Linked DNA regions of Homo sapiens. The protein of the gene in region 1 purifies or fractionates together with the protein of each later gene. This does not show direct contact. Each region holds a gene or a part of one and is shown on either strand. Other genes may lie near its edges.

Region 1 (3,500 bases):
GAATATATTTTTACAATTTAAACTAAATTGCACAATTGGTATTTTTAAATTTAATTTCCTTATTATATAATCTTTCAATAATGGCTGACTAGCTTGTTCACAACAAACCTCTCACTGACAATGACTATATTAGTTGGATAAAATATTAATGAAAACCTAATAGTCTCAGAAATTTGGTTAATGAGTATTTCAGCAGCCAATATACTATGCAGGAGAAAAAAATAAAGTGGTGAGCCCAACAGTCAGCAGAACTTTTCTTTTTGAGGCATTTGCCAATTCTGTATGAGCAACTGAGAAGCCAAAACCATCAGATCTTCCAGGAGCCTAGCAAGGCTGGAGTGGAAATAGTTTGAATTCAGGTCTCAGCAAGGAGGAGCAACCCTGGTAAACATTTTAGGTTTTAGTTAGGACCTCTGAATGACTGCAGAATACAAAAAGTAAGGATGAAGAGAAAAAAGTAAAGCCCTTACAAGTAAAGTAGGCTAAACCTCATATCAGGTAAGCACTTGATTAGCTTAATTTAAGTTATCTCTACGCTTATTGTTTGATAACACCAAAGAGAAATCCCACCTGAGAAGGACAGTATTATTCAGAGTCTCAAATTACATCTATAATTATTTTCATACCAGGTGTCTAACATATTATTTAAATTTCGTAGGCATACCAGGAAGGAAAATACATAAAACAGACTAACTGGAGATCTGGATATTGGAGTTGTCAGACATGGGATCTAAAATAATTCTAATAAGTATTCAAGAATTTATAATATGATAGAGAATTGTGGCAGAGAACTGAAGCCTATCTTTTAGAAATCATAGAAACACTTTAACTCAAAATATAATAACTGAAATTAAGAACTCAATAAATTAGATTAACAGCAAATTAAACAAAGCTGAAGAAGAAATTACTGAAATGGAATATAAATGAGAAGAAAATATTCAGATTGAATACGGAGAAGAAAAGAAAGAATGAAAAAAATGAATGTAAGAAACAAATAAGGCACAGAGAAAGTTCTAATATTCTTCAAATTGTAGGCCTAACTGGAGAAGATTTAAAAGGAAACAAGAAACAAACAACATTCGAAGCAAAAATGGTTGAAAAGCTTCCAAAATATGAAACCCAACAAACATCAAGTCATAGATCCAAGAAGTGTTGTACATTATTAGCCAGATGAATGCAAAAGAAAGTATGCCTAGATATGCCATAGTAATACTATTAGAAACCAAATACAAAGATAAAAGAATGAAAGATAAATTATCATCAAAGGACCAAAAATAAGACAAATCGCTGATTTTATTGTAACTGGCTTCCACTGTATCTGTTGAGAAATCTGCATTTTGCACTGCTATCATGGCTGTTAATTTTTTAGATAAAACTTATGTTTATAGTAAACATTCATTTATACTTATAAACATCATATATGTGTGTGTGTATATATATACATTAGTGTATATGTGTGTATGTAATTTCAAACAAAGAAAAACTGAAAAAAATCAATATTAGTACTTTTTTTACTAAAGAAAATATTGAAACAAATACTTCTGGTTGAAGGAAAGTAATCTGAGGAAAAAATGGAGATGAAGAAAGGAATAAAAAGAGAAAATATGTGCACAAGTATAAATGGATATTGACTGTATGCATATGTATTGTAAATACACCATATAGATAATAAGTATATAGAAACAAAAACGTAAAAGGCAGAGGACAGAAAATGAAGTTAAAGAGTCATATTTGCATTTTTAATAAGTTGTAATAGTACTAATATATTATTTTAATAAGCCACGGTTGTATGTTGACATCTTATAGACAGCAATTAAGGGTATAGTAAAAAAAAGTATATCACTAACATGTCAATTCAGGGGGAAAATGAGAAATTAAAATGCTACATGATTTCAAAAGAAGCTGGAAAAGAATAAAAAATGGTAAGGAGACAAATAAAGAATACATGAGACAAATAGAAAACAGTATGATGGCAGTTTGGTCCCTGTCTGAAAATTCCTCCTCAATCATCCTAAAATATTTAGTAAATGTACTAACAACTACACAGTTGCAGGCCAAAAGTATAAAGATACATTATCATCTTATTACATTTAAGCAGAAATATAATACATTTAAATTCCAGAGACCCTTTAGCACCAAATAACTTTACGCTGAATCATAATTTTTGCTGACAGCAAATGTAACACAAAGGATCAGAATCGAATGTAAAATAACTATAAATTTAATCTCACATAATCTACTACTTTATTTTAGAAATATAATAGGTTTGAAACATTATTTATATTAGAATTTAGGTCTTTGGAAATTTTATTTTTGCAAAAGGGCATTAATATGTGAAGAGATTTAGTTATTGCTTAAGGAACACTTGAAAATCAAAGGGGGATCGCTTCACTAGGAAACTTAAATTTAATCAAAACTTTAAAACATGCCAATTAAGCCAGCTTCATTATACTCTTTTTAACAGAGACAACTACAGAAAATAAAACAGGTCCTAAGAGATAGCTTGAATTACAGAATGAGCAATTTCAACCTCTTGGTCTATTAAGGGAATTTTCTGCAAAACCATTGTCATTAGCAAAAACAGAGACCCACATAATTTAATTAGTGGACCTGTGATAGAATAAGCCTTTCATTCATATTTATTCTTTTTATATTTGATAGTACATTGTTAAACTTCTAATATGTATATGTGTATATATTCATACACACAATATTTAATTTAAGTCTAATAATTCATCAGGGATATATTATCTCTAATATGTAAGCTGAAAAATTAAGGTGTGGCCATGCTCTTGCACACACAAAACCATGGAATAAGTTGGTAACAGAAAAATATCGAGGTTTTCAATATTCTATTGCACACACATAATTATTTCAAAATACAGAATTTTCTATCTGTTCTAACTACAATCAAATTATTTCATATTACAGGAGTCAGGTTTATTCATGATTCTCTCTGCCAGATTCAACAATAGAGAATTAGTTAAGCTCTCTGCTGTGTTGACAGCCTCCAGAAACCATTTTTACCTCATCTCTCCATTAAACTACTATGAGGTCCTATGAGACAAAAAGGTGAGAGAAAAACAGTAATAATATTCATCGATTGGTGCTAAGATCAAACTCTATACCATGTCCCCATTCTCACTGATTTTGTATTCACTTAGCAAATATTTATCATGATGCTACAGTGTGCCAATCATTTTGTTGGACCTTGAACAAATGCTAAGAAGAAGTCCATGGTCTTCATGGGCATGTGATGCTTATGGCCTATAAGGGAAAACATTAATTCATTTGTTCATTCAAAAAGTATTATTGGCCATAAAAAATTAACCAGACATTCTGATAAGTGTTGAGAATCCCGTGGTGAATTGCTTCCTTAGTTTTACTATGCTTAATATCTGCAAAGCAATTAAATATCAAGTAATCATGAAAATAAATATATAATGCATATTATCTACAATAGGTTACTATGCAATAGAAGTCTAACAAAAGCTGCTGGC
Region 2 (3,500 bases), on another chromosome or scaffold:
CCTTTTGGGTATGAGTACGGGAGAGGGGAGAAGATGGCAGGCTTTGCAGCTTAACTTACTTTGGTGGTAGGGCTCAGGGGAGGCGAGCTCTGTTCGATGGTCCCCTCCAAGACCAAGGGGCTGGGTGTCCTGGGCTGCTGACATTTCTGGTGCTAGAAAAAAAAAAACAGACATCCCAAGTGACCCCCTGCTTGTGCCCCTCCTGCCCTGCCCAGCACCTGTGGGAACAAATGCTGTTCCTTCCTGAGCCCCAGGTTCTCTGTGGCCCTGACGTGCTCCAGTTCTGGAGCTGGTGGGGAGGGACTGAGGAGTCTGGAGAGATGTCTCCGGATCTTGCAAGAGGATCACTGAGCCTTGCCCTCTCTGAGAATGTGGGCCCAGAAGGGGCTGCAAGGTCTAGGGGTGTGGGGTGCTGACCCACTCTGGGCTAGACCCACAGGGCCCACAGAGTGGTGCAGACAGCCAAGGCAGACTCATCCCTGGGGTGGGGGTACACCCAGACCCTCTGAGGTGGAGCCATCACCTCCTCCTGTTCCTCCTCAGCCCCTGCGGCCCCCAGGTTGTCCTGGACAGTGTCCTCTGGGCCTGGCCCCTCCTTGCTCAGACTCAACTCCTCCAGGTGGACTTCATCACTGTCCTCCTTTTCGTAGGCATGCAGGCCGGGCCTGTGGGTGGAAAGGGAGGCAAAGCCGTTCTAGGGCCATTGGATTGCTTGGTTGACCCCTTCCTTTTTCCAAGCCTCAGTTTCCCCATCTGTAAAATGAAGGTAGTCAGGCTACTTGAGTGCCAAGGGATCTGAGACCCAAGCCCATTGGGAAAGAAGGTCCAGTGGCCTCAGAGCCAGCGCAGTCTGCTTGGGCCCCTGTGTCAGGGCCTGAGGCCCCTGGGGAACTGCCCAGTCCCTGCCAGACAGGGCTCTACAGACTGAGGGTCCCCCAGGCACTGAGGCTGGGTTCAATCCCCAGCTTTGTGGCTGGGCCTCAGCTTGGCAGCTGCTTGCACACCCGGTTGGTCTGACGGGGTCCCCGCGAGGCCGGGCTGCTGGGGCCACCACTCCTGCTCTGCTCCCTGTGGGGGCCCTTGGGTGTTTGGGGGACTGGAGGCTGGGTCATTTGGAGGGCTAGGCAGGGGTAGGGGCCAGGTCACTGAGGAGCAGGGCCAAGGGGCTGCCGGCTGCGGGGGAGGGGAGGCCAGCCAGCTGGCAGCTTTGAGCGGCTCTGCATTTGAGCAGGACTGAACCTGGAGGAGAAGATGGGAAATTCTCGAATTTTCCATGATTTCAGGCCCCTGGGTGTGCGTGCCAGCCAAGACCCAGACCCACCCGCCCAAGGTGGGCAGGGGTCTGAGCCAGCAGCAGCCACACAGAGGGGCCATTCAGGAGCAGGTCTGTGCAGCCAGGCAGGTGCAGGGGGTGGGGTGGCGGCCGCAGAGCTGGGCTCCACGGAAGAGTCAAAGCGCCCCCTGCTGGTGGGAGCAGCCTCGCCCGCCTAGGCCTGAGGCCAAGGGAGAAGGGAGCTGCCCCATCTCAGAAAAGCAGAGCCGCTGACTCCCAAGCACGTAGGGGGGAGACTGAGGCCCAGGGAGGGGGGCGGTGGGCACTGCGCCAGGCCAGGACCAGTGGTTCTTGGGGAGTGGGAGCCTGGTTGTAGGAGGACAAGGGAGCGTCGCTCAGCAACACTGGTCCCTAGAGCTCCAGGCTGGTTTAGGGCCTCAGAGGGGCCAGGAAGGACCCTGACCAGGGAGAACTGTCAGCCCAGCCATGGGCTCTGGTCCCACTCAAGGCAAGGGGGTCCTGAGCAGGGCTGGGGTCCCAGATGGCCCAGGCCCTGCAGGGCGGGTGGGGTCAGCCCCATCATGGCCACAGATGACTGAGAGCGGCAAGGACCCCGAGCAGGGGTAGTGAAGTGGGGCTCGGGAGCAGCCCCTGTTGGGCCTGTTGGGGTTGAGACAGGCACACACATCCCCACATCTGGAAAGTGCGTCCTCCCGGCCGACTCTCCGGCATGCACATCTGGAAATACCTGCTCCCCTCCGTGGGAATGGAGATCAGCCAGCCCCGAGGGAGGAAGGGGCGGCGGCGGGCTCTCAGCCTCCATTACGGAAGCGGCCGCAGCTGTGTGCTGATGTGGCAGCACCCGGCCTGGCCTCGCAGCTGCCTGGATGGGGCCCAGGGGCCCTGGGGAGCCCCAGAATGAGGTTTCCTCGCGGCCCCTCGCCGGCCACCATGCTGTCTCGCCCTCTTCCTCCCTCCCCTCCTGTCTCCCCCTTTCCTGGCCATGGGGGCATTTCAGGCTCTGCTTGGAAAGGGGAGGATGGGGTGGCTGCTCAGGCGCAGGTTGAGGGCCTGAAGGGAGCTCCGCGGTGCCCTGCTCTGCCCAGCGCCCGCCCTCGAGGTCCAGAGGGAGCCCTGCTCTGCCCAGCGCCCGCCCTCGAGGTCCAGAGGGAGCCCTGCTCTGCCCAGCGCCCGCCCTCGAGGCCCTCACTCACCTGTCCTCTTGCTCCCCCTCAGGACTCCTGCACTGGGGGGGCTCTCCGCTGTCCAAGGCGCCCTGCGCCCCCTCGTGCTGCTGCCGCTGCTCTGGCCTCTGGGACCAGTCGCCAAAGCCCTCGTCCTCATCCAGTTCAGGGGCCTCCGAGGGCTTCAGGCTGAGGCTGAGGGTAGCAGGGGGGAGCTTAGGCCTGGGCGGCTGCTGCCTCCTCTGCCCAGGGCCCACACTCACCTCACGGCGCCCGCTCAGGCCCTGGACTCCAAGTGTGGGAGACCCTGTCTGCCACAGAGCTGGCTCTGGGCTGTGTCTCCTGTGGTCAGAATACCTGAGGGCAGGGCTATGCCTCCCCCGTCAGTTCTGGGGCAGCCTGAGAACTGTGCTTCCTCCATCAGTCCAGGACTCCTTGAGGCTCAGCAGGGCTATGCCTCCTCCATCAGCCTGGGGCTACCTGAGGGCAGGGCTATGCCTCCCTCATCAGTTTGGGGCTCCCTGAGGGTAAGGCTGTGCCTCTTCGATCAGTGTAGGGCTCCCTGAGGACAGGGCTGTGCCTCCCCTGTCAGCCTGTGGCTCCCTAAGAGCAGGGCTGTGCCTCCCCCATCACTCTGGGACTCGCTAGGGCAGGGCTGGGCCTCCCCCGTCAGCCTGTGGCTCCCTAACAGCAGGGCTGTGCTTCCCCCATCAGTCTGGGGCTCCCTAGGGCAGGGCTGTGCCTCCCCCATCATCCTGGGGCTCCCCAAGGGCTGCCCTGGTCCCCACATGAGGACCCTACATGAGGTCCTCCTAAGCCCCGACTTCTCAGGCCTCCCATGTGGCAGGGGGAGCCCCTGGATAGCTGGGGCCCTTGGTGGGGGTGGCCAAGGGCCTGACTATGGTGACCGCTGAACCCCACTCTGCCCAAGGCTGCTGACTTGGAGAAAATGGAACAAAAGAGGCCAGAAGGAAGGGAAGCATTATTGGAAAAACAGCCCAGCCCAGCCGCGGAGGCCTCCTGGGCCCAAGGAGGAAGCAAGC

The links.
Region 2: the proteins of HMGCLL1 (region 1) and LSP1 purify together in Homo sapiens (affinity purification with mass spectrometry; one large-scale study listed by BioGRID and IntAct). This does not show direct contact.

Annotation. Positions count from the first base shown.
Region 1 is NC_000006.12:55,572,693-55,576,192, forward strand, and holds part of HMGCLL1 (3-hydroxymethyl-3-methylglutaryl-CoA lyase, cytoplasmic), read right to left. Parts: intron 1-3,500. UniProt on the Homo sapiens protein: Non-mitochondrial 3-hydroxy-3-methylglutaryl-CoA lyase that catalyzes a cation-dependent cleavage of (S)-3-hydroxy-3-methylglutaryl-CoA into acetyl-CoA and acetoacetate, a key step in ketogenesis, the products of which support energy production in nonhepatic animal tissues.
Region 2 is NC_000011.10:1,880,584-1,884,083, reverse strand, and holds part of LSP1 (lymphocyte-specific protein 1), read right to left. Parts: intron 2,653-3,500; coding exon 2,488-2,652; intron 666-2,487; coding exon 524-665; intron 153-523; coding exon 60-152; intron 1-59. UniProt on the Homo sapiens protein: May play a role in mediating neutrophil activation and chemotaxis.